Linked DNA regions of Homo sapiens: region 2 is linked to region 1. The links come from fine-mapping of genetic effects on gene expression. Tissue or cell type: whole blood. Region 1 holds a variant in brackets; the other region holds the start of a gene. All regions are shown on one strand. Distances are from middle to middle.

What was found. PIP is the estimated chance that this variant, and not a neighbour inherited with it, causes the effect.
Region 2: it holds the start of ANXA3, and the variant in region 1 is fine-mapped to the expression of ANXA3 in whole blood (INTERVAL, PIP 0.97).

Annotation. Positions count from the first base shown.
Region 1 is chr4:78,598,846-78,601,699 of GRCh38, reverse strand. ANXA3 (annexin A3) reads right to left here. Exons shown (of 13, transcript NM_005139.3): 11 at 132-190. Among named protein-coding and RNA genes, the nearest start is that of LINC01094, 46 kb to the left of the region's middle. The variant C/A (reference allele first, on the strand shown) is at 1,654.
Region 2 is chr4:78,550,329-78,553,004 of GRCh38, reverse strand. ANXA3 (annexin A3) reads right to left here and starts at 1,235. Exons shown (of 13, transcript NM_005139.3): 1 at 1,146-1,235. RefSeq lists enhancers at 1-815, 119-870.

The DNA.
Region 1 (2,854 bases):
TAATATAATTTATCTTAAAATGTTTAAATTACATTAAAATAACTAATTTTTAAATATTTGTTCTACTATTTGCATACTTTCCCAAGGGAATTAAGGGACGCTAAGAATGCACATGAACTTTCCAGACCAACCTTCAAGGCTCGATGCAGTCTTTCGGCTAAAAAGGCCGGCGTGTTCCTCACACAATTAACTGTAACAAAAAGCAAATAATGTTCAGCTTCACGGAATAGAAATTGGGTTAATCTATAGTAAGTAATATGTTTTTTAAAAAGATTCTTTGGACTGTCATACCACTCTATCCCCTCCCCACAACTGGCTTTTACTTGGAATGAAAGAAAGGCTGCTTACCCTGATTTTCATAGCCTTTTAATACCATATTTGCACAGAACTTTAGCACAGTAATTATCTCCAGCCATGGGGAAAATAAAATTACCTGCCAAAGAAACTCCCACAGCGACTGACTCATCTCTGGATCCCAGACACCCCGAACACCTACGCTTTCCCTGATAACTCCCTAGGGTGCGACACTGCTCAGCTACTAGCATCTCGGGCTACTGATGAACAACCTGGGCCTGACAACTGCAGCGATGTTGCTCCAAATAACTCATTAGGCACGCAGGGGCACTGGAGTTCCATTTAAAAGCAATTTTTCCCATGGAAAGAATTTTCTTTTAAATGACTGGATTAGAATTTATAGGCTGGTTAGAGTGACTCCATTAGAACAAGTATCTGTCATCTAAATTCAGTTGCCTTAAAAAAAAAATACAATCCTTCAATTCTTTATTTTGAAATAACAAGTAAAGCAGAAATAAAACAAGAAAAAGGAAACTGACAAAAACGCAAGAGTAAATTATCTTTTAAATAAAAAGAAAATAGGAATAGAAAAGTCTGTAGGGAAGAAACCTATTTACAGCAACACAATTATTTTTATAATCTTAAATCTGATCTCTAGGTAGGAATCCAACCAAAAGTGAATGGATTTTATAATGAATTTTGGAGCTCAGAACAAGAATAAGTGACTTTCTCATCGTGGCTTATAGACTGTCTTAAGGAAAGCTAAAAGACTTTTGGCTTTTTGAGTGATTTAAGGGAAATAGAAGGAGAAATGTATTAGAAACCCAAACACAGCATTTAGAATCAAACTGTTACATGAAGTTCTCTGACAAGAAACTAACCATTTAAACTAGTAAAACTCACATTAAGTAAGCCATAATAGCTTGATAAAAAATAATGATGCCCACTTTCATCCTATTAAGCTTTCCAGTCACCTCCCTGCCAACTAGATTTGTACAATCCCTTCTTTTCATGATCCTTTCTTCCCTTTAGCTTGCCTTCTGCTTTATATTCTTACCTACTAGATTTGTTCTTCATATCTGAAAGTTTTGGAAGGTGGCAGTATGTTTCAGTGGGAAGGAGGCTTTATCACCCAGCACCATAGGCAGGGAAGCTTGGGAGTCCGTTAGAGTTAATTACCATGACCAAGAATTCATAATTGCCCATTCCCTACCCTCTTCATTGTCTTGACCACACTTCCATCAGGCCTCTCTCCTCCCACAGGTTCCTGAACTCTGGCTTGTCCCCAGTCCTGGGCAAGCCCTAAAATGCAGAACATGCCTCTGTTGCAGCTTATCTTGAGAGTCCAGCTGTCCACTG[C/A]CAGACGTGTTTCCTGTCAATCCCCAGTGATCATGCCCTTGTGCTTGCCCAACATTAAAAGTTGCTGCTAAGACTTTTCTGTTGGATTTTGAAACTTTTGCACATTTTTCCCCATCTTTTAGAGATGGGATCTCACTTTTGTCACTCAGGCTCTGGTGTAGTGGCACCAACATAGCTCACTGGAGCCTCGACCTCCTGGGTTCAAGCACTCCTCCCACCTTAGCCCCTTGAGTAGCTGGGACTACAGGCGTCCACCAACCTACCCAGCTAATTTTTTATTTTTTTGTAGAATCTTTAATATATAGATTAACAATATAAAATGGAAAAAAAATTAACCAGTTCTATCATTGCCATTGGAACAGTCTCAGAATGCTGCTCTCACTATGTTGCCCAGGCTGGTCTTGAACTCCTGGCCTAAAGGGATCCTCCTGCCTCAGCCTCTCAAAGTGATGGGATTATGTGCATGAGCCACCACACCCAGCCCAGTCTTTCAGGTTTCTGAAATCAACATGTTCTCTCTATTGAAATAGTTCTACTGAATAAAGCCTCTCCTTACTTAAGTCTGGATTTGTTCTTATTTGGCAAGTAGTATGCTCCTATTACACGATTCTAAGATGACACAGCTCAGATCGTTTTTCATGTCAAAAACTATGTGTTGACCATTGTATTGGATTCCTTGTGTATGAAATATGCAGAGTAGGCAAATCTATAGAGACAGAAAGTAGATTAATGATTATAGGAGCCAGGGGGTGGGGAGGATTGGAAAGTGACTGTCAATAGTTACAGGGTTTCTTATGCGGCTGATTAAAACGTCCTAAACTTAGATTGTGGTGATGGTTGCAAAACCTTGTGACTACATTAAAAAGCATTGAATTGCACACTTTGAGTGGGTGAACTTTATGGTATGTAAGTTATATCTCAATAAAAAATTTTATAAACTGGTTTATTCCAATGGTAGACTGAAACAAAATGAAAGTGTAACATATTTTGAACTTCAATTGAATTATAAGGTCTTTTTTTACATGATAAAATAATGTGCATTATAGCCCAAATGTAATACATTATTCAATGATATATTTCCAAGAATGCTCCTTAGCTCAGTGAATGAGAGTTTGTACATCTCAACAAAGTTTTTCAAACATTACGGCTTAGCAAGAACACCAAATGAAAAACAGCAAGCAGAATTAATATAAAGATTAAC
Region 2 (2,676 bases), 49 kb after region 1:
CGAAGGCCAAATGACTTAAACAGAATTTCAATATATCCTTTCCTGAAAGGGATTACATCATTTCCTTTTACTTCCTCCTCTACGGTTATTTCTAAACAGGTTTCTCTACACAACCACAGAGTTCTGGGAACAAGATTCTGGTTTTCTTTACATTTAAAAATTCCCTTTCTGGTCAGTCTGAAGTTTTCCGTCTTCGTGAAAACCAAAGGTGGTATCTTCATGGAGTAACGTTTTAATTAGTTACATTTTAAAAAATGATGTTGGTGAACATAGTAAATGTATCTTTCCCGGAGGGCAGGGTCTTGCTGTCAGTGCTGAACACAAATCCTTGGAAAGAATTCGGCCTGGGCTATGCAATTTCGTATCAGTAGCCAGAGGGGCCTCCAGCGACCCAGAACCTCCCAGCACCTGCATACTTTCCTATATATGGTCATCTGCAATCAAGTATCCAAATCTTCCACCTGGTGACTCAAATACCAAGGGAATGATTCATATCTAGTCAATAGGATTCTGTTGCAAAGAAAACGGTTAGTCTTTTCAGGAAAAAGCAAACTTCTTGAACTTCCAACCCTCAATATGCAAATCCACTGTTTTCTACCTTCTAAAAAAAATAAGTAAAATAAAATAAATTGCCTATGTGAGGGGGAGAAGATGCTCACAGGATGGGTGCGATTCCAAGTCCACAGAGCAGACCTCTGAGCCAGCCCCGTCTGCCATGCCGGGGACCCGAGGAACCTTCCGACTCCCAGCTTTTTTCTGTCCCCTAGACCTTTAGGACTGGGGAGGCCGAGATGGCTAAGTGGATCCCTTACGCTGCTAGCTGTAATAAGCGAAGCTTTCAGGGAGCGAGGACAGCTGAGTATCAGCTTGGGCCCCACCAAGACCTGGGTGACCCACCCATGGCACGGCACTTTCCCCCCCGTGGGCCCAGTCTCCTCGACTCTGAAATGCAGGACTGAGGTCCCTCCAGCTCCCCACCCACGCAGCTGGGTTGGGGCCGGGCGCGGGCGCCAGCCGCCAGCCCTGCCCAGGGTCGAGCTGCACTCGCGGGGGAACTGGGCGAGGCGCCGCGACCTCCCCAAGCCACCCGTCAGCAGGCGGCTGTGGGCGAGGCTCGCGGGGACGCGCCGGGAGGCTGAACTTACCCAAAGCGCGGTGGGGGAAACTGGTGTGCGAGTAAACTGCGAACAAACTGCGAGCGAAGGTGTCAGCCGCGGGCGCAGGTGCTCCGCGCTGGCTCCGGGTCCGGATCGCGACCGCACCCCTTCCTCCTGCCCCTCCTCCGGCCTCTCGACTCCACCTGATTGCGGCCCCAGGCCCCGGGAAAGGGAAGCCGCGCCCTGCTGCCGCCGGGCTCTATCCCTGTACACAGGCGCCCCAGCTCTGCTCCCTCACCGGTCTCTAAGCTTCCCCACCCTTTTCTCCCTACGCCCTCATTTCGCTCTCGGTTTCCACTACACCTTTACTTTCTCAAATGTACTGCAATGCTTATTTTGTTCTAGGCAGTGTGGATTCGGAGATTAGACTGTCCCTATACCTAAGGAACTCACTGCGTGGCATAGGTGGCGGACACCTAACATTAATAACATTGATCTGGCATTTACTTTGTACCAGGCACTGTTCTAACTTCTTTAAGAATATGCGCGGATTTATTAGGTTGGTGCAAAAGTAATTGCGGTTTTTGCCATTAAAATGGCTCCGACAACAACTCTATGAGGTAGATACTATTATCCCCATTTTATAGATGAGGAAATTGAGATACAGAGACGTTGGGTAACTTCAGCCAATTTACACAGAAGGTAAATGCCAGAGCTAGTGTTTGGAACCCAACTATTTCAGTAATTCCTCTACTAAACGTGTTGACCCTCTGGTATGAGGATTCCAACCAAAGGCTCAGGGAGACGGTAACCTGGAAGGGCATTCTAGGCATTTGGAAGAGCAAAACAAATCATCGAGGCTAAAAGGTTAAAGCCCTACTCGTATGAGGGAATTATGAGCAGTTGTGTGCTGAAGGATGTAGAAAAAGTTACCATGTATTGAGTATCAGGCATTGAAGTGCTTGAATACCTTACCTCTTTTATCTTCAAGGGAACTCTAGGAGGTGCTATTTTTATCACAATTTGCAGAAGAGAAAACTGAGGCTTAGAAAAGTGAAGTGATTTATCCGAGACCACGTAAGTAAAAAGTATTGCTTGCACTCAGTCATCACTGGGCCCCTTATGTATTCACCCGAAGGATTTGAAAACTTACCTCCACAAACACCTGCACATGGATGTTTATAGTAGCTTTACTCCTAAGTATCAAAAGTCGGAAGCAACCAAGATGTAATTCGTAGGTGAATGGATAAATAAACTGTGATACATCTATACAATAGAATTTTATTCAGCACTGAAAAGAAATTAGCTATCAAGCTATAAAAACACATGGAAGAAACTTAAATGCATATTATTAAGAGAAAGAAGCCCATTTGAAAATGCTACACACTATGATTCCAACTATATGACATTCCAGAAAAGGCAACACTACGGAGACAGTAAAAAAAATCACTGGTTTCTAGGAGTTGAGAGGAGGTAGGGTGAACAGGTGGAGCACAGAGGATTTTTAGAGGATAAGCATGGCTGGAGCTGCTTGAGTGTGAGTTGAAGAGATTACAGTCTTGGTCCTTAAGGCTGAGTC